Homo sapiens: one gene and its partners. The protein of the gene in region 1 interacts with the protein of each later gene in a biochemical or structural test. Each region holds a gene or a part of one and is shown on either strand. Other genes may lie near its edges.

Region 1 (8,609 bases):
GTTAGCTTTTATGTTTTACATAGCTAAACCAAGTATTTTTAATTACTACTTATTATTAATGTCTAATTATTAGAACACAATGATTATACTTTTTAAACCTCAAAGGCTTTAAGATTTGAACAAATAAATTTTATTCATCTAAGTTTTATTATCATGATTTTTTCACTGTGCACGATCACTCATGCCAGCTAAAACAATTACAGTCTCAACACAGCAAATTTATTCTTAATTCTGAACTAATTAATGAGAAAGGATTCTAAAACCTTTTTCAAGTAATGGGGGAAATGGTTAGAATCAAGTGGTTGTAACAGAACAGTGTGAGGAAAGGGCTTCTTACCTCTACTCTCCAAGGAGTCAGAATTGCGAACCATTTGGCAGCTTCTTAAAAAGTAAATACACTCTCAGAGAAACTACTGGGCTTGTTTTTAAACTAAGTATTTTTGGAATCTTTAACATTCCCGAACAGGAATACGAAAACCAAGTAAAACGCCTATTGTAACTAGAAGTGACAGATGACTTGTGTAGCAAACTGAGTTTAAAAATGAAAAAATACACGCATACTCATGCACGCACTATATCTTGTAACAAAACAAAGGTCAATACTAACTTTCCCAAATTACTCTTAGAAGTTTCACAAAGAATAAATAAATGCCATGTCAAGTAATGTTACATAAAGAAAGACGGCTCCCGGAGACAGAGACCTACAAGAGGCTATCTTCTGAGACAACCTAAATGGACTGAATCCTAAACAGAAATTATTAAAAACCAGACGCTGAAACAGACGGCTAACCACAAAACTTTATTCTTGGTTAAATGAATAAAAAGGTGAGAAGGGGATGGAGGGTAATGTACTACCCTGAATTTTTATTAATAAATATTGCTAAATCCTGAATAGAACAAAAAAAGACAATGGGGAAACTTCTAAGCTTCCAGGATATCTTAAGGGCTGCCCCAGTTCCACCACATGAATATGACTGTGACCTCAGATAAATCAATGAAATTAAAATCTGAACCTAATTTCTCATGTATAAGTGAGTTGGAGATCATCCTTAAGTTTTCTTGTTGCTCTTTAACACTAACAGAGGAAACACAAATGTATTCTTTTCCAATATACGTTATATACAGTCCATGTCATTCAAGAGTCCGTATGCCAAATCATACTGAGCACTCCTGTTAGTTCTAAGGCAGTCTCTAAATTTCCCAAGAGGTAAAGCAGAAAGAATACAGCTTCCCGAAATATTCCTTCCCCACAAAGTTTTGGGTATTTTCTACCATTGCACCCCTCTCCAGGGCAAGCCCTGCCTAATACAGAGTATCACTTTATCTTAGGCCTAACAAATTATTGATAAAGCCTACTGCTCAAAATGTTACTTCGTTAAACAAAGCTGCAGAACAATTTAAACAACTTTCATCCAACAGCCAACTCGGTAGAATCTTATTACAAATAAGCTTAATACAAACATCTCCTAACAACAATCACTATCATCACCACATCTCTCTCTAATATGGGGAGAGGGGAGAGACATAACACGAGAGAACAAAGCCTACAAGAGTAACAAAAGCTGCTGTAAAAGAAAAGTTAATATAGGGAAAATCAGCCTTAACCGAAACAAGGAGAAAAGAAAAAAAGAAAAAAGGCCAAGACAAACACTACCTTCCCATTTAAAATATACCTTTAAGTAAACGCCAGCTGAGAAGAGAACAATTTTTAAAACCATCAGAAAAAGGAGGAAAAAGTCACTATTTTGGTAATTTTTATAAAGTCTAAAGTGCATCTTGTTAGACATATTTGTAAATGTATATTAAGTACAAATTTTATTTATAAGGAATAATGTTCTTAAGATGTGTTTTTACAGTTAAGTTTCTGAGACTAAATCTATCTTCACATAAAAGTTCCCATGTAATTTTCACCTACATATTCAGCACTACAAATTTTAATTAGGTTTTCTGCTATCACCATGAGATACAAGATTAATTGTTGCACGAACTGACCTGCATACACCATTGAATACTCATTTTATTGTCCCTAAAGATGCGAACATCTCAGACATGTGTACTGCATGAAGAGCTGTCTTTCAAGTCCATATTTGTGGCTTTTAATTACTTTACCTGACCACTACATGAGTTAATATAAAAAACGTTCTGTCTGGGAACTCGGGATGTGTTAACTGAGAACAATGACTATACTGCCGTTCAAGCATTGGGTAATTACGATTTATTTACAGCTCGCCTCCTGTATGTAAACACAACTTGAGTTTTTGAAGTTCATTAGGAAGATAGTATAGGATTACCCAACTCTCTCCACACCGCAGACCAACCCTCTAAATTAAGGCTATACCCAAAGTTTTCGAAACTATTTCATCAACAGGGTAGGATCAGTCTGGGCACCACTGCCCATCCATCACCTCTTATTAAAAGTACGAGAAGCACTTTCTTCGACATAAAAAAGGGTTAACCCTCGCTGGGGGAGAGAGGCTGTTGAAGACGCGCGTGGAGTGGGTGGGTAGCTGCTCTACCAACCCTTCCCGGAGCTCGCCCCGTCCGCGGCAAGGAACGCAGCAGCCTGCAGCTCCGAAGGCGAGGGGCGGCGTTTCTGGTTTCAGTCATTCGTCCAAAATAACTGTCGAGCTACTTAAGAGTTAGCTTTCACGTCTCTACCAAAAACCAACAGCAGTAGCAGCAACAACAACAAACAAGGTTTTTCTCCGGACCGAAAACTTTTAAAGTAACATTAAAATAACAGTGTAAAAACAATAACGAGTCACAATTGCACACCATTTTCCCCGCCGTTCCTTCTGAAAGGAAAGCTAGAACCCAGTTGTGGCCTGGGAGGAGTCCCTCCACGCCAGTGCTGGGCTCTTCCTCAACTGGCTGCTCGGGGACCACTCGGGGTGGCGCGGTGAGCGCGATTTCCCTCCGGCGAGCGGCGAGGGACAGTGCAAAAATGTCACGCTCAGCCCGTCCCCTGGCCCGAAGCGGAGGCCAGGCGGCGCGCGGGGACCCGGCGGCGGGGGCGAGAGCGCCCGCGGCCCCGACCCGCGGTCCCCGCCCGCCCCTCGCCCGGAAGGGGGAGAAGCCCGCCCGCGGGAGGATTCAACAGGAGCACCGCGCCGCCCGCCTGCCGCCCGGGAAACAGCCGCCGGCCGGCCGGGGCGCGGGGGGAGGGGCGCGGCGGCGGCGACGGCGGCGGCGGGAGGGCGCGGGCGGCCGGGCGGCCCCGAGACCCCCGCCCGCGCGCAAGGTCACCGCCCGCCGCCGCCGCCGCCCCGGCCGGGATCAGAGCGGCAAGTTTAATTTTCCAGAGGCTGCGGCAGAACCCGCGGCGTGGAGGCGCGCGCCGGCCGCGGGGCCCTCCCCACCCCCACCGCGCAGCCGGCCCGCGCCCCGCGACCCCCGCCCCGGGCCACCGCCAGGCAGCCACCCGCTGCAGCCCCCGATGCCGGGAGGCGAGTCGCGCCTGGCACCCAGGCGGGCGGCGCTTCAGCCCTGCCACACACACGCACACAGCGGCAGTGGCGGCCGCTGAAAAATGGAGCGCCGCAGCCAGAGAAGAGAGACATTTTCTTTCCGTTAACTGAATTGTTTCCTACCTCCGGGTTGCCGACTCGCTACTCCGCTCACTCCGGGGCTCTCCGGGATCCGCCGCCGCCGCCGCATCCAATCGCCTTCTCCCCCCCCCTCCCCTTCCGCAGCCAGCCCTGCCGTTCCTCCTCCTCTCCGCTTCAAAATGGCGCCAAGCGCTCTTCGGCGGCTGCTCCAATCGAACCGCCGCGGACAGCACCCGGGGGCAGGCAGAGCGCGGCATGGGTGCGCAGCGCCCCCTGCCGACCAGACGGCCCCGAGCGCGTCCGCCCTCCGAGCTCCACCCCGCCCCGTCCGCGCGCGCGCACGTCCCTCCTCAGCCCCGCCCCGTCCGCGCGCACGCAACCACACGGGCACGCCGCCGCGGGGCCCGCGAGAAGGGCAGCTGTCAAGGCGTCCACTACTCTTGCGGCTTCCTAGACCTCTACCGACAAAAACCACACCGATTGTTACGTAGCCCTATCTTTTTAGATAAAGGTTGGGAGATTTTTTTAAACCCTGACATTCAGCACAGGTGTTGTGATGGGTAAACAGAATTGGTATTATTAACTACTTTGCTCCTTACTTGTTAACTCTGACCTAGTCGTCTCGGAATGCCATACAAATAGTTTTCCTACACTTTACGTGTTATGTCTTTATTAAATCTCCCCGCTTTCCTAATTTGAGGAATTGTTTATAGGTGGTAGGCTGGCGGAGACAGAGTAATTGAGCCTGTGACGAAGCATTCCATTCCTTTGGCAGAATTGTCCTTATTAGAGGAAGAAATCATCTGGAGACCACAGGGACACATTCCAGGAGGTGGGTCTCCTCCCCTCTTCACCTCTAAGGGATGCCAGTCCCTCCTGCAGCTGTAGAGTGGGTTTAGCCTGGTCACCACAGCAGATCACCTACCTTGCGGGAAGGTTTCCTCCCCAGCCGGGTCCCTGCCAGAGCTGAAGAAGGGACTTCCTCCTCTTTTTACTTTAATACCATCCCTGCTGTAAGGAAGTTTCCCCTGATATGATGTATTTGGTTACTAGAATTTTGTTCCAGGGAGAATTTGTTTCAACAATGAACAAGCAAAGTGTGAATGAATGGATTACAGTAGGATACTTATCAACTGAAACAAAAGAGAGGTAATGCTGATATATAAACTAATGCTACTGTGTTAGAAAAGGTATGTACATCGGTATTCCATCGGACCCGGGCACCTAGAGATACTGAGACCTCTTCATTTCCATTTTTGTGGGATTCGCTGGACAATTCCGCCTCAGTCTCCTCCAGTGCTTGCTAGACCAATATGTTGTGTTACTGTATTCCTGTGTCCAAGATTTTGCCACTGAATACTCCAGGTTCTACCCATTTTATACATTCCTCGATGAAGTCTACTATGAGTTTTTTCTGCCCTCTTTTTAAAATTATCTCAGGAATTTTCTTATTTTACATCGTTGTTCCATCAACATAAATCTTGTATGGGAGAGTAGGATGTCTAGATCTAGAAAAACCTTTCCTCTTTGGTTGTTTTTATTATGTTTTTTACTTTATTTTCTTCAATTCCCAAACCTCCAAAGCCAGGAAGCCAGAAAGTTTCAGAAGAAAGCCAGGATGAAAGCAAGAATTTTTTTTTCTTTTTTCTTTCTTTTTTTTTTTTTTTTTTTTGAGATGGAGTCTTGATCTGTCGCCAAGCTGGAGTGCAGTGGCGCGATCTTGGCTCGCTGCAACCTCCCTCTTGAGTTCACGCAATTCCCCTGCCTCAGCCTCCCAAGCAGCTGGGACTACAGGCACACACCACCACTCTCAGCTAATTTTTTGTAATTCTTAGTAGAGACAGAGTTTCACCATGTTGGCCAGGATGGTCTCGATCTCCTGACCTCGTGATCTGCCTGCCTCAGCCTCCCAAAGTGCTAGGATTACAGGCGTGAGCCACCATGCCCGGCTAAGAGTTTTTGTATAAATTATTCAGTGCTCTTATCCCCATTATTTGACACCTGGAAGCCTCAGTAAATATTTTGTTGGATGTATGAATTGTTTAAGAATGTCACTCTACATCTTGTATATGGCAGTGAGTCCTGAAAGGGCTGAAGGTGTCACGTCAACTTTGTGAGCAGTTTTGCCAGTTTCACCATTAACCCTCTCTCTTATAAAATGATGCCTTGAATTTCAATGAGGCCCGGAATACATATTGCCCACGTTAGGCTGCTAACACCACAGGATTAAGCCCAAGAAAAGAGTGGGCAGAAAGGAGATAGCCTTCAAAATAGCTACATTGTAAGGGTCAATGGGGCAATTACCATTAGGACAGACAGAGGAAAAACCCTAAAGCTTTAATGAGGCATAGTTTCTAACAAAAGGGCATACTTTTATATGACTGCAAGTGGCTTTACAGAAATCAGTAATATAAACCTTCATTTAAAACAATATTGTTTGGGAAAACTAAAATCTAAAGTTGATATTTGAACAAAAATAATCTTCTGTGTTTGGGATTTTTAAAAATAGCCAAGTTGCAATTCATTAGGAGCAACATAACACAACATTGTTTAAGACAGTTTAAGAGTGTGAACCATTCAAAACTCAGTTGTGAATGCTTTCTACACCAAGAAAGAGAAATTATGTGGGAATTATGTCCAAATGCTGGTTTTATACAGAAATGGTTAGGAGAATTGTCTTTGATTATGAATAACCACAAATGTAGTTCCCACCTCTACTAATTTTACTTTGTCACTATAACAAATCATCACAAAGTTGGTGGCTTAAAAGAGCACAAACTTATTGTCTTACTGGAGTGCAGAAGTTTGACAGGTATCTCGCTGGGCTAAAATCAAGGTGTTGTCAGGGCTGTGTGTCTTTCTGGAGGCTCCAAAGGAGAATCCCTTTTCTTACTATTTCCTTCTTCCAGAGGCTGCCCAGATCCCTTGGTTCATATCCTCCTTCCTCCATCCGCAAAGCCAGCTCCATGGCGTCTCTCTGACCTGCTTTTGTCACCGCAGCTCTTCCTCTGACTCCCTCATCCACTTTTAATACTCTTGTGATTATATTGGGCCCACTTGGATAATCTCTAATTTAAGGTCCATTGATTAGTGACCTTTATTCCCCTTTGCCATGTAACATAACATATTCAAAGGTTTGGGGATTACGACATGGATATTGTAAGGGGACCATTATTCAGTCTGCCACATCACTCATATTTGAGTTACCTGGGCTTTTTTTAATAGAGTCCAAATTTGAGGTTAAAGAGGTTAGCAAGTTGAAAGACATCAGGAATGCACACAATTAACCTGGACAGTCCTAAATATACCCCTATGGCCCCTACTGCATTTTGAGTACAGCCTTGCTGCACTACAGCATGGTTTCCAAAATATGGTGAAATGTTTATCATATTATACATAGTAGAGCACACTGGGCAGCTAATTAGTAAATGATAAGACTGGGCCCTACCTAGACAAACATTACCGGTTCAGCATAATTCAAGGTATGTCCCAAAGGCTAGTCAAGACAAAAATATGATCCCTGTTAGCCTGCAACAGTGCTGAAATTCCCACTAGACTAATTTATTGGGTTAAGGCATTGGATTCTCAGAAAACATGTTGGAATGTGGTTGTGTTACTTGAAAAAGTTAGGCAGGGCTCGGTGGCTCACGCCTGTAATCCAGCACTTTGGGAGGCCAAGGCAGGTGGATCACGAGGTCAGGAGTTCAGGACCAGCCTGGCCAAGATGGCGAAACCCCGTCTCTACTAAAAATACAAAAATTAGCCAGGTGTGGTGGCAGGTGCCTGTAATCCCAGCTACTTGGGAGCCTGAGGCAGAGAATTGCTTGAACCCGGTAGGGGGAGGTTGCAGTGAGCGGAGATCGCACCACTGCACTCCAGCCTAGACAACCGAGCGAGACTCCATCTCAAAAAAAAAAAAAAAAAAAACACTAACCCATTCATATCCATTAGGAGAAACTAAGCCCAACAGAAATTAGCTTTGTGATATTTTAGGCATTAGGCAAACTGGTGAGGCATTTTGATAAACTCCAAGCCCCTGAAGTTGATCCTTCATTCATGACATCACTACTGCTGAAAGATGGTATACGGGCTCTTTTCCTTCACCCTCATCCAAGACTCAGCCCCTGGTGCCTCAAATTTCTCCCTCCACAATTAATCCCCTGCATGAGGCACTGTGCCCATCCTGTGATCCTCTTTACAATGCAAATATTCCTGAAAGGATGCCACATTCATCTACAGTCCCAGGGCAGCTGTTCTTAACTCGAGTGGAGTGGAAGAATACCAAAATCATCTGGGAAATTTCTGTAAACTAGATCTTCAGAAACTATATTGGAATATGTTTGATACATCTAACTTTTTTAAAGAGTTCCAAAGATAGATGTCAGAAATTTTTACACAAAATATCGTAGCTTGCATTATCATCCAAAGAGAGATTTGGGTTTAAGAAAGCATTTATCATCAGTTCAACTTCTGGAAATAATAAAGAGATATAGAACCAAGAGCAATTTCACTTGAAAAGTAAGGAGAATGACAAAGGAGAATTTAGACTGCTGCTTTGAATATTTGTGCAAAGGCGTATAAATTCCTTCAATATAATATGTTTCACATATATTCACATGCAATCACTAATCAATGTTATTTACTTTTGCGCTATTTGAAAAATCTACAGGCCGGGCATGGTGACTCATTCCTGCAATCCCAGCACTTTGGGAGGCTGAGGTGGACAGATAGCTTGAGCCCAGGAGTTTGAGACAAGCCTGGGCAACATAGCAAGACCTCCCTCTATAAAAAATAAATAGTTAGCTGGGCATGGTGGCATGCACCTGTAGTTCCAGCTACTCGGGAGGCTGAGGAGAGAGGATCACTTGAGATGAGGAGAGGTTCCAGTAAGCAGTGATCGTACCATGGCACTCCAGCCTGGGCAACAGAACAAGATTCTGTCTCAAAAAAAATTTTTTTTTAATTTAAAAATCAGCATTCCAGTGTAAGATGGCCAAAAACTCCAAAACAATTTTTCAGTTTCACGTTTCTGTTCTAGGCAAGCAGCCTGTTTTTGAGCAT
Region 2 (4,874 bases), on another chromosome or scaffold:
AAGAGGAGCAGACTGGGGACTGGACAGAAATAAACAAGACACGGGGCAGGACAGGCCAGGCGCAGTGGCTCACGCCTGTAATCCCAACACTTTGGGAGGCCGAGGAGGGCAGATCACTTGAGGTCAGAGTTCAAGACCAGCCTGGCCAACATGGTGAAACCTCATCTCTAATAAAAATATAAAAATTAGCCAGGCGTGGTGGTGGGCACCTGTAACCCCAGCTACTTGGGAGGCTGAGGCAGGAGAATCGCTTGAACCTGGGAGGCAGAGGTTGCAGTCAACTGAGATCACGCCACTGGACTCCAGCCTGGGAGACAGAGCTAGACTCTGTCTCAAAGAAAAAAAAAAGTGTGTGGGGCACAGTGATCTACCATGGGGCGAATGCGGGGAAGCGGGGCTGGGAGCGCCTGGACAAAGGGACAACCCCAGTGATGCAGCCCACTGGAGGCCTGGCCTTACCTTCGGCTCTGCCTTTGACTCAATAAAAGAAACACAGTCCATGAACAGGCAGAAACTCTTTAATCAGGCTTTTTTTCCAACTCTAAAACAAAATCCCATTTTTTCCTTAAATTTAGTTCCTCAGGAACAGAGAACTTTGCAATGATGATCTCAACTCTGCATCATCTGGTGACTCCTGATTCTGCAGGACTAAGACATTTCCCAAGAGTTCTGCTGCATCAGCCAGTGAGGACAAGAGTTCTTCAGTGCGGTTCAGCTCAAGGACACCTAGGCTTCCCCAGCAGGGGGCTTGCTTGCAGGTCTGACAAACCACAGAGCGTTGAGCAGATGGCCTGGGACTCCCAGACCTGGCAGAGGGTTTTATTAGGGCCCGCCTGGCCTGCACCGTTTCATCCAAGTACCCTGACCCAGCACTCATCTTCCCTGGCATTCTCTGTTATCCACCAGCTCCTCTGCACACCTCAGCGTCTACTTCCACGAACTTCTAAACATCAAAAGGTACAATGGCCAGGGGTGCGGCAGGAGAGTCGGGGGCAGGGCAGCCTTCAAATCCACACTATTGAATCCACACGATGGAAAGAAGAGAAAGATGGGGAAATTCTCCAGAGATCATGAGATGCATCCAGGCAGTGTTCTCATGTGAGAGGATAGGGAGGCCAAAAACTAAAATTGCTATCAGCCCCCGCCGCTGTCTGGTACGCGAGGAAACTTTCCGAGGACTTTACAAGCATAGTTGCAAAATGCTAGTAGGTCTGGGACTCTTCAACTTTCTCTTCTAGGGCCAAGTAGACTCGGTGTAACTTATTTTGTAAGAAATGGGTATGGGTGACAAGAGGGGCCACCTTCCACCCCTGCAGCAGAGTGGTAAGACTCCAGCGTGGGCCCTGTGCAAGGGACCAGCCCAGAGGCCATGAGCCACAGAAACTCACAGCACCTGGTGGCCACACCCTGAAATGCACCCTTTGCTCCAAGCAGCCAGCGCCCTATCAACCTGGCATTTACCAAACATCTCAACAGCAGACCAGAACTAGAAAACACAGCTTCTGTGTAGTACACACTTATGGTCTGAGACCCAACTAAGGCTCCCTACATCCTTCAAAACTCAGACTCCACAGGCTGAATGTCCAGCTTCTTCCTCCAAGACAGAATTGCCCTCAGCCCACGAATTCTCTCTGGGACTATTTACAGAATCAAAGGGGAAACCCACGGAACTGAAAACCTCTTTACACAGGTGGGTTCAAGAAGAAAGCCACCAACAGAAGGCAACTCAGGAGGGAGAGGCCGAGGCTGGCAGAGCCCCTGGGCCTATTTCCAAGCAGCCACCCCTCCCAACAAGAGCAGAGGTGCCTCTCACCTCAACCCTCAGCCCTTTAACTTCTGGCTGGGCCACTGATTCTCCTCCCCAGTCTGTGGCCCATCTGGAAACTGGCTATGGTACTTTGGGGAGATAGGAAGGACAGGACGACAAGAGACAGGACACCAGTGAGTGGCTGGGCCAGGCGGCCCCATTTCCTAAAACCAAGATGGCTGCCGCTGCTGCCCAAGCCCTCAAAGGCAGACAGTCCTCATGCGCAGCACCAGCACACACACAGGTAACAAGACCAGGGGAGGGGACCCTAAGTGTCCTCTCCACAGGGAGGTGGCTATGTACAGGACAGGAGGGAGAGTCTGGCCAGGTGCACCCCCCACTGCATCTCATTCAACCAGGAGATCAAACTGCTCAGCAGCTTCAAACTCGGCATTCATGGCCGCAGCCCACTCATCCAGCTCCGTTTTCTGAGGGAAGAGAAATGAGGAGCAGGTGAGTGAGAAGGGAACATGGTGGCTGGAGCATCTCACCCACACCCTGCAGGTGCTGCCTATCCCCCAAAAGAGCCAGAGCCCCAGCCCTGCACGTCTCCCAGAGCACACGGCAGAGAAAAACCCCTGCCTCTCACTCACCAAGATCTCTGGCATTTTCTTCTTCTTACGTTTCTGTTTCTCGGGTGGTGGGGAGATTCCAGGGAGAGTCATGTCTGGGGCCCAGGGCTTTGCACAAACCCTGGGGACCTCGGTGAGTTTGGAGCACACCACTGGCGAGACTCCGGACAAGTCTTCTGCCCCCAGCAGCCCCTCGAAGCCAAAGCAGGACCGGCGGCCTGGGGTGGAGGTAGAGGCAGAGCCCAGGGTCTCCAGCCGGCTGTAGGAACGCCTGACTTTCTTAGACATTTCCAAGTCTCTGGCGTCCAGCTCTCCTTCCTTGGAGCTGGACTCGGCCTCAGGGTTCGGCACAGGAGTGCTGGTGGGGGTGGCAGGGACGCTGTGTGTCTTGAAAAGGTCCTCCTTAGTAAGCTCCCTGCCAGGGGGCTCGTTTTCTTTCTCCAAGAAAAAGGAAATCTGCACCAGGACAGAAGAGGGGATGCCCTCAATACTTAGCTGGACTGCTTACTTCCAGAAAAGCCCGAGAAGATTCAGGGTGGAAAGACCCACAGGACACACACTTTTTTTTTTTTTTTTTGAGACGGAGTCTTGCTCTCTCGCCCAGGCTGGAGTGCAGTGGCATGATCTCGGCTCACTGCAAGCTCCGCCTCCCGGGTTCACGCCATTCTCCTGCCTCAGCCTTCCGAGTAGCTGGGACTACAGGCGCCCGCCACCTCGCCCGGCTAATTTTTTGTATTTTTAGTAGAGACGGGGTTTCACCGTGTTAGCCAGGAGGGTCTCGATTTCCTGACCTCGTGATCCGCCCGCCTCGGCCTCCCAAAGTGCTGGGATTACAGGCGTGAGCCACCATGCCCGGCCAACACACACTTTTTTTAAGGAAGGGACAAATCAGACCCTGAAAGAGACATGGAGAGAAGAAAACAACCCACCATTGCTTCCAAGGAGTCTGCTTTTGTGACACAAATGGACTTGCCCCCATCTGCTGGTGCTGTCGCTTGTTTCCAAAATGTGCCCAGCATCCAGCCTCTCCTCTGACCAACTCAAGCCCTCATTAGGTGTCTTCTAGACCAGCTCAGCAACGTTTTTTGTTTTGTTTCCAGATAAACGGTCTCAACTCTGTTGCCCAGGCTGGAGTGCAGTGGCACGATCATGGCTCACTGAAGCCTCAGCCTCCAGGGCTCACGCAATCCTCCTACCTCAGCCTCTGAGTAGCCGGGACTACAGGCATGTGACACTCTGTCTGGCTGATTTTTTTTTAGTTTCTTTGTAGAGTAGGGGAGGTCTCCCTTTGTTGCCCAGGCTGGTCCCAGCGACCTTCTGATTTCTCTCCCTGTTTCCACCCTTGCCTGCTGTGGTCCATCTGCCACACAGCTGATGAGGATTGTCCTAAATGTCCACTCAGTCCATAAGTATTTATCAGTCACCTGTCCTGTGCCAGGCACTGGGAACACAGCAGGGAATAAAACAGAGAAAACCCCTGCCCCATTCTAAGAGAAAAACAGGTAAGAAAATTCAGTATTATGTTAGCAGTATCAAGCACTACAGGAAAACAGAACAGGAGAGAGTGCTTGGGGCAGGTTAGAATTGCAAAAAGATAAAGGTCAATACATCCCTCACTGAGGTGACATTCAAGCTACAACTTGAAGGAGGTGTGGGAGTGACTCATGGCCAAGTTCTAGGCAGTGGGAACAGAAGGTGCAACAACCCTGAGGCCACAGTGTACTAGTCAGGGTCAAACAACAAGGAGGCCAGTGTGGCTGAAGTGAAGGCAAGAGGAAGAAACTGAAGATGAAGTTCAAGAGATAATGGGTGGCCAGATATGGTGGTTCACACCTATAATCCCAGCACTTTGGGAGGCTGAGGTGGGTGGATCACCTGAGGTCAGGAGTTTGAGACCAGCCTGGCCAACATAGTGAAACCCCATCTCTACTGAAAATACAAAAAAAATTAGCCAGGTGTGGTAGCAGGTGCCTGTAAGCCCAGCTACTTGGGAGGCTGAGGCAGGAGAATCGGTTGAACCTGGGAGGCGGAGGTTGCAGTGAGCCGAGATTGCGCCACTGCACTCCAGCCTGGGTGACAGTGCGAGACTCCATCTCAAAAAAAAAAAACACAGGGAAGCTGAACAAATTGGTGGTCACTGCTGACTACGACTTCCTCATTCTCTATAGCCAAGCAGTCACCCAGGTCCTGGCAACTTTATCCTGCTCGATGTACCATGAATCTCAGTCAATCAACAAGAATGAGTGGCTACTAGGAAAGGCAGAAGTCCCTACCCTCAAGGTGCCTGTGTTCTTAGAGGGGGGAGAGAAAGACATCAAACATGCAAGAAAATACACTATAAGAACTGATAAGGACCAGGCACAGTGGCTCATGCCTGTAATCCCAACACTTTAGGAGGCCAAGGTGGGAGGATCACTTGAGCCCAGGAGTTCAAGACCGGCCTGGGCAACATAGTGAACCCTCATCTCTATAAAAAAAATTAGAGAAAACATCAA
Region 3 (7,453 bases), on another chromosome or scaffold:
GGTGGCACGTGCCTGTAATCCCAGCTACTCGGGAGTCTGAGGCAGGAGAATTGCTTGAACCTGGGAGGTGAAGGTTGTAGTGAGTTGTGCTACTGCACTCCAGCCTGGGCAACAGAGTGAGAGACGGTCTCAAAAAAGACTAGAACGGCTTTTAAAACAAAGCATTGTAGAGCTATGTGTGGTGGTTCGTGCCTGTAATCCCAACACTTTGGGAGGCCAAGGCCGGCAGATCACTGAGATCAGGCGTTCGAGACCAGTCTGGCCAACATGGTGAAACCCCATCTCGATTAAAAATACAAAAATCAGCAGGGCGTGGTGGCGGGCGCCTGTTGTCTCAGCTACTTGGGAGGCTGAGGCTGGAGAATTGCTTGAACCCAGGAGGTGGAGGTTGTGGTGAGCCGAGATCACGCCATTGCACTCCAGCCTGGGCAACAAGAATGAAACTCCATCTCAAAAACAAAAAAAAAAAAAAAAGGAAAGGGGGGCCACAAGGCAACCCATGGTATGTCTTTCTTTTATTTTTCCATTAGCTTTTAAGCACAATCATCTGCAAGTGGGACTTTCCTTTCTGGTTTCAAATCTTGAAGCAACAGAAACTGATCACCCCTATACAGTGCCAAAAAGATTATGGAAACCCTGTCTTGAAATAGCTTGCACTGCAATAATTGCTATAAACAGCACATTCACTACTAATAACTACTTTATTAGAAGCCTCACAATCAAATCTGTTTACTTACCCTCTGAAATGTTTCTTGTTTGAAACATGGTCTCACTCTGTCACCCTGGCTGGAATGCAGCAGTGCAATCTCGACTCACTGCAACTTCCACCTTCCAGGCTTAAGTGATTCTCCCACCTCAGGCTATCGAGTAGCTGGGACTACAGGCACGTGTAACAGTGTGTCCAGATTAAGTTCTGCATTTTTTGTAGAGATGGGATTTCACCACCTTGGCCAAGCTGGACTTAAAACTCCTGGGCTCAAGCGATCCACCTGCCTCGGCCTCCCAAAGTGCTGGGAGTACAGGCGCAAGACACCACACTGGCCTGAAATGCTTTAAGACTCTAGGATTATCTTGAGTTAGTCTTAGCAATGAAAGACCAAGCAGGTAGATGGTGAAGGGCTAATGGCCTAGTAGGTTTGGCACAAGACTCCATAACCAAAACCTTACACAAGATCATTCAGACAGACAACTTAAAAACCTGCTTGAGAGTTTTACTGACAGAAAAAAAGAATCTGTGCAGACCCATTCCCTTTGCTACATAGCTGAGGCATTTTATTTTACCATTAATTTAGAAGTGAGAGAAGGGTCAGGTCTCTCCAGCTTTAGTTCTCTTGGAAACATAAGATTGTCCAGTAGACAGCTTGTTAAACCCAAGTCATTCCTAAGGCACCATGTCAAAGATACTTCATACCCCTCCTCCAAAACCAAAGAAAACACACAGAGATTAATACACTACAGAAGGAATAAACATTTTAGATCAGTTTGTGACTACTGACCTGTCTCCTGTTTATACCATCAGAAAAGCTGATATAATAGCTGTTTTCCCGGAAGCTTTATCCTGGCAGTCACAACAGGAAGAGGCCTGTAGAGAACCCCAGGGAGCAGTGCACTCTCATTAGGCTGCAGCACTTAAGGTTTTTAACAGAGGAAAAACCCAATGATTCAGTCTTTGGCATCTCCCACTCCATCTGCATTAATGGCGAACATAGCTTCAGCTTCAGGAAGACAGGGAGAGTCGTAGATTTTGCAGATTCTGGTTTCCCCTCTTCCTTTCCTCAGATACAATCTGACCCAAAGACACAGACCAAAGCACCAATTTATTATAATTAAACAATTCCGTTCCTGACTTTGTAACAGAGCTGAAAATTTTTTAGACATATATTCTTCCTAGAAGGACCCTGGGAATGTTTCTGTACTGTTTTCCTTAGTGCATTTCCAACCTGGCAGAATCCATTTTTGCCCTGGCCCCTCTCAGTGGATTGTCCATATTGAAACAAACATTAAAAAAAGAAAAATTTAGGCCGGGCATGGTGGCTCACGCCTGTAATCCCAGCACTTTGGGAGGCTGAGTTGGGCAGATCACGAGGTCAGGAGATCGAGACCATCCTGGCTAACACTGTGAAACCCCATCTCTACTAAAAATACAAAAAAATTAGCCAGGTGTGGTGGCGGGTGCCTGTAGTCCCAGCTATTCGGGAGGCTGAGGCAGGAGAATGGTGTGAACCCGGGAGGCGGAGCTTGCAGTGAGCCGAGATCGTGCCACTGCACTCCAGCCTGGGTGACACAGCGAGACTCCATCTCAAAAAAAAAAAAAAAAAAAGAAAAAAAATTTTTTCAAGACAGTGTCCTGCTCTTTTGCCAGGCTGGAGTGCAGTGATGTGTGATCATAGCTCAATACAGCCTCGAATTCCTATGCTCAACTGATCCTCCTGCCTCAGTCTCCTGGGTAGCTAAGACTACAGGCACACGCCACCACACCAGCTACTTTTTTTTGTAGAGACAGAGGCCTCACTTTGTTGCCCTTACTAGTGTCGAATTCCTGGCCTCAAACCATCCTATCACCTTGGCCTCCCAAAGTGTTGGGATTACCAGTGTGAGCCACTGTGCCCAGCCCAAACATTTTTTAAATAACAGGGGAGAGGCATATCAATTACTCATATTCATTCTTCCACACTTGTGGGTTTTTAATTCTTTTATGAACTAAAACATCTATACCAACGAGAGCATGTTAATTAGATTAGCAAGAGTTCCTAAGTGTCTATACAACAGTAGCTTTAACAGGGCTTAAATGAAAATGTTATATCTTCATGTCTTCACAGTTAATATGACATTCCGAAAAGAAGAACTGATCCCATCAACACCTTACCTGGTTGTTGATGCATGGGCGATGATATTTCCTCCAATAGGTTTTTTGGGATCAGCAGCAAACATCGCTGCTCCATCCACTTGAGCTACCACCTGATTAGTGATTACCACTGCTACACCAAACTGATGGGGAAAGGATAAATGTCAATTTTGTGGCCATAGACACTCCAAAAGCCTTAATGCTGCCACCACTTTCCCCCACAAAATAACGAATAACTAATGTCTCTCTTCTTCCTAAGAGCTTGATGATCTCAGGCACTGATGTCTTAGCCTCCTAGCAAGGCTCCTGGAATTCACAGCCACTGAAAGTAGGCATTCTCTGTCCCTATCCCACAACTTACCTCATCAGCGAGTCGCAGAAGCATCCGCAGAAACCTGGCCAAGTGCATCTGCCTGGCTGAAAGCTCACCTCGACCCGAGTAGTCTGTTCTGTAAAGGGCGGTGGCACTGTCTACAATAAGCAGTGCATACCTACAGGAAACAAGGATTCTCTGAAGCCTATTTCTAGCCTGTGTCAGATTCTGGTCCCTTCCTTACCACCCTAAAATCTCATATTCATAGTTTTTCCTGTATACAGATTTTTTTTTTTTTTTTTTTTTTTTTGAGATGGAGTCTAGCTCTGTCGCCCAGGCTGGAGTGCAGTGGGGCATTCTTGGCTCACTGCAAGCTCTGCCTCCCGGGTTCACTCCATTCTCCTGCTTCAGCCTCCGGAGTAGCTGGGACTACAGGCGCCCGCCACCACACCCAGCTAATTTTTTTGTATTTTTTTAGTAGAGACGGATTCACCGTGTTAGCCAGGATGTTCTCGATCTCCTGACCTTGTGATCCACCCGCCTTGGCCTCCCAAAGTGCTGGGATTACAGGCTTGAGCCACCGCGCCCGGCCTGTATATAGATGTTTTATTAAAATATTTGCACAGTACTAACATCTGAGGCACCGTTTAACAAGATTTCCAGCAAGTTCAAGTAGATTATGGTTTCATTTTTAATAGTGACTTGACCTAAACTACAAAGCAAGAGTGTCAACACAGGAATTATACTTAAACCTCCTCATTTCTAATTCAAACTACTATCAATCTGGCCAAATAGCCATTACAAGATTCAGGGAAGGACTCTTAAGAACATATTTGGTGTCTTATACTGAACACATACCTAGATTCTACCATCATGGCTGATGCTTGATAAAGGAGCTGGGTCTGGTGGTCTGTGTTGAACGCTCGAGCATATGCTACATTATCCAGGACATCACTGCCAGAGAGACCATACCTATGAGAGAGGAGAGAACATTTTTAGGCTGCACACAGAACTCAGGCAGATGAGCAATTTGTTTCTGACACTTAAATTACCTGAATAGGTAGGGAAGAAGTGGTACTGACAGTAGTTTCAGGACCAAAGAATGTATTTCCCTTTCTATTAAGAAGTTCAGGCAAACTATAAGCAGAGAGATGATAGCACCCAACTACTCTGGAGCTCTACCTGGCAAGTCTTTGGGATAAATCAAATCCATTCTTTTTTTTTTTTCTTTGAGACGGAGTCTTGCTCTGTCACCCAGGCTGGAGTGCAGCGGCGTGATCTCATTGCAACCTCCACCTCCTGGGTTCACGCGATTCTCCTGCCTCAGCCTCCAAAGTAGCATGGAGCTATGCAGCACCATGCATAGCTAATATTTTTATTTTTAGTAGAGACAGGGTTTCACCATATTGATCAGGCTGGTCTTGACCTCCTGATCTCATAATCCGCCCACCTTGGCCTCCCAAAATACTGGGACTACAGGCGTGAGCCACCACGCCTGACCTAAATCAAACCTATTCTTTGAGGGCCAGGTGCGGTGGCTCACGCCTGTAATCCTAGCACTTTGGGATGCCGAGGCAGGTGGATCACCTGATGTCAGGAGTCGGAGACCAGCCTGGTCAACATGGCAAAACCCCATCTCTACTAAAAATACAAAAATTAGCCGGGCGTGGTGGCAGGCACCTGTAATCCCAGCTACTTGGGAGGCTGAGGCAGAAGAATCGCTTGAACCCGGGAGACAGAAGTTGCAGTGAGTCGAGATCATACCATTGCACACCAGACTGGGTGACAGAGTGAGATTCCATCTCAAAAAAAAAAAAAAAAAGAGAATGTTTACATAAAACCCAGTGTGCTATGATTATGTTCTAGGTTCACGATTCTGTCATGAGGATAAACAGATGGCATTAGGATAGAGTTACACCTTACGATCCTGACCAAATAAAACAAGAATGAAGAGATATAAGTTTTCTCTATTTAGATCATGAATGTATGGTGAAAAAAAAAAGATGTAACAGGTGTAAGTACTTTACTGCACAAGTCTTCTAGTTCTGCCTCAAGAAACACTGATATGGCTGGGCGCAGTGGCTCACACCTGTAATCCCAGCAATTTGGGAGGCTGATGTGGGCAGATCACTTGAGATCAGGAGTTTGAGACCAGCCTAGACTACATGGTGAAACACCATCTCTACTAAAAATACAAAATGTAGCCGGGTTGGTTGCAGGCGCCTGTAATCCCTGCTTCTCAGCTACTTGGGAGGCTGAGGCAGGAGAATCGCTTGAAACCGGGAGGCAGAGGTTGCAGTGAGCCGAGATCGCACCACTGCACTCCATCCTGGGTGACAGAGCAAGACTCTGTCTCAAAAACAAACAAACAAACGAACAAAAAAATACACTGATATAATCTACTATCAGAAAGGGAGAAAAGGCTGGGCACGGTGGCTCATGCTTGTAATCCCAGCACTCTGGGAGGCTGAGTGGGGAGGATTGCTTGAGCTCAGGAGTTTGAGACCAGCCTGGGCAACATGGCAAAACCCCATCTCTATTTATAAAATTAAAAAAAAATTAAAAATTAAAAAAGAAAGGGAGATTATCTATTTGCTATAAAAACAGAGAAGGTTTACCAGAATAAAGAGTTATCCTAGCTTTTCTCTCAGCGGCACTCACAAAAAAAACTATGGGAACCTCTGTGCTTAGGCTCCAGAAGCAGGACATGGAATTCCCACAGCTTGGGACAAGTTGGCTGGAAATACCATCCTCTTTTTTTTTTTTTTTTGAGACGGAGTCTCACTCTGTCGCCCAGGCTGGAGTGCAGTGGCACGATCTCGGCTCATTGCAAGTTCCGCCTCCCAGGTTCACGCCATTCTCCTGCCTCAGCCTCCCGAGTAGCTGGGACTACAGGCACCCGCTACCACGCCTGGCTAATTTTTTTATTTTTAGTAGAGACGGGGTTTCACCATGTTAGCCAGGATGGTCTCGATCTCCTGACCTTGTGATCCACCCGCCTCGGCCTCCCAAAGTGCTGGGATTACAGGCATGAGCCACCGCGCCCGGCCATAGCATCCTCTTTCATAGTGTTTCTTGAACTTCCTTAAAGATAATAACCTGGAACACCCGTTAGAAAACAAATTCCTGGGCAGGCTGTGGTGACTCATGCCTGTAATCTCAGCACCTTGGGAGGCCAAGGCAGGCGGATCACTTGAGGTCAGGAGTTCGAGACTAGCCTTGCCAACAAGGCGAAAACCCATCTCTACTTAAAAAATACAAAAATTAGATGGGTGTGGTGGTGCACGCATGTAATCCCAGGTACTTGGGAGGCTGAGGCAGGAGAATCGCTTGAACCCGAGAGGCGGAGGTTGCAGTGAGCCAATATCACGCCACTGTACTCCAGCCTGGCAGCCTGGGAGACAAGAGTGAAACTCCGTCTCAAAAAAAAAAAAAAAAAATTCCTGGGCCTAACCTAGACTCAATGAATTACAATTATCAGGGAAGAGCCTGGTAATCTGTATATTTAACAAATACCTCAGGTTATTCTTAACATATAAGTTTGAAAAACTAAGCTCATCTCAAAGGAGTTCTGTCATTCTTTCACAGTACTTCAGACTTTCAAGAAAGGCTAGCAATTGTGGTCATGGTTTTCAAACTTTAGCAAGCATCAGATTACCTGGAGAGCTTGCATTTTTTTTTGTTGTTTTGTTTTTTTGAGATGGAGTCTCACTCTGTCGCCCAGTCTGGAGTACAGTGGCACGATCCTGGCTCACTGCAACCTCCGCCTCCTGGGTTCAAGTGATTCTCCTGCCTCAGCCTCCCGAGTAGCTGGGATTACAGGTGCCCGCTAACATGCCCAGCTAGTTTTTGTATTTTTAGTAGAGCAGGGTTTCACCATGTTGCCACGCTGGTCTCAAACTCCTGACCTTAGGTGATCCACTCCCTTGGCCTCCCAAAGTGTTGGGATTACAGGCGTGAGCCACCGTGTCTGGCCCTGGAGAGCTTGTTAAAACAGGTTGCTAGCCCGAGTATCTGATTGTTTCTGATTCAGTAGATCTGAAGTCCCATCAGACAATTTGCATTTCTAACAAGTTCTCAAGTAATGATAATGCTGCTGTTCTGGGGACCATGTTCTGGGAACCCCAGAGCTACAGTAACATGCATGTGGGCTAATATTCTTCAACAGGGCACGGCAAAAATTAATCAGTAAGGGCTCTTTTGTTGTGAATGAAAGAGGGCTATTTTTATTAGCTTAAGGAGGCCTTGTGACATTCTCAGAAATATAATTCAATTATAAAATTTTTTTCTTGATA

The links. Proteins that work in one complex are often made in the same cells at the same time.
Region 2: the proteins of PDS5B (region 1) and CDCA5 form a complex in vitro, tested with the Homo sapiens proteins (one study listed by BioGRID).
Region 3: the proteins of PDS5B (region 1) and RAD51 form a complex in vitro, tested with the Homo sapiens proteins (one study listed by BioGRID).

What each region holds. Positions count from the first base shown.
Region 1 is NC_000013.11:32,581,575-32,590,183, reverse strand, and holds the start of PDS5B (sister chromatid cohesion protein PDS5 homolog B), read right to left. Parts: upstream 3,733-8,609; 5' UTR 3,591-3,732; intron 2,916-3,590; exon of another isoform or gene 2,776-2,915; intron 1-2,775. UniProt on the Homo sapiens protein: Regulator of sister chromatid cohesion in mitosis which may stabilize cohesin complex association with chromatin. May couple sister chromatid cohesion during mitosis to DNA replication.
Region 2 is NC_000011.10:65,076,953-65,081,826, forward strand, and holds the end of CDCA5 (sororin), read right to left. Parts: intron 2,836-4,874; coding exon 2,401-2,835; intron 2,236-2,400; coding exon 2,155-2,235; 3' UTR 501-2,154; downstream 1-500. UniProt on the Homo sapiens protein: Regulator of sister chromatid cohesion in mitosis stabilizing cohesin complex association with chromatin. May antagonize the action of WAPL which stimulates cohesin dissociation from chromatin.
Region 3 is NC_000015.10:40,725,388-40,732,840, reverse strand, and holds the end of RAD51 (DNA repair protein RAD51 homolog 1), read right to left. Parts: intron 4,131-7,453; coding exon 4,017-4,130; intron 3,337-4,016; coding exon 3,207-3,336; intron 2,989-3,206; coding exon 2,867-2,988; intron 1,787-2,866; coding exon 1,663-1,786; 3' UTR 501-1,662; downstream 1-500.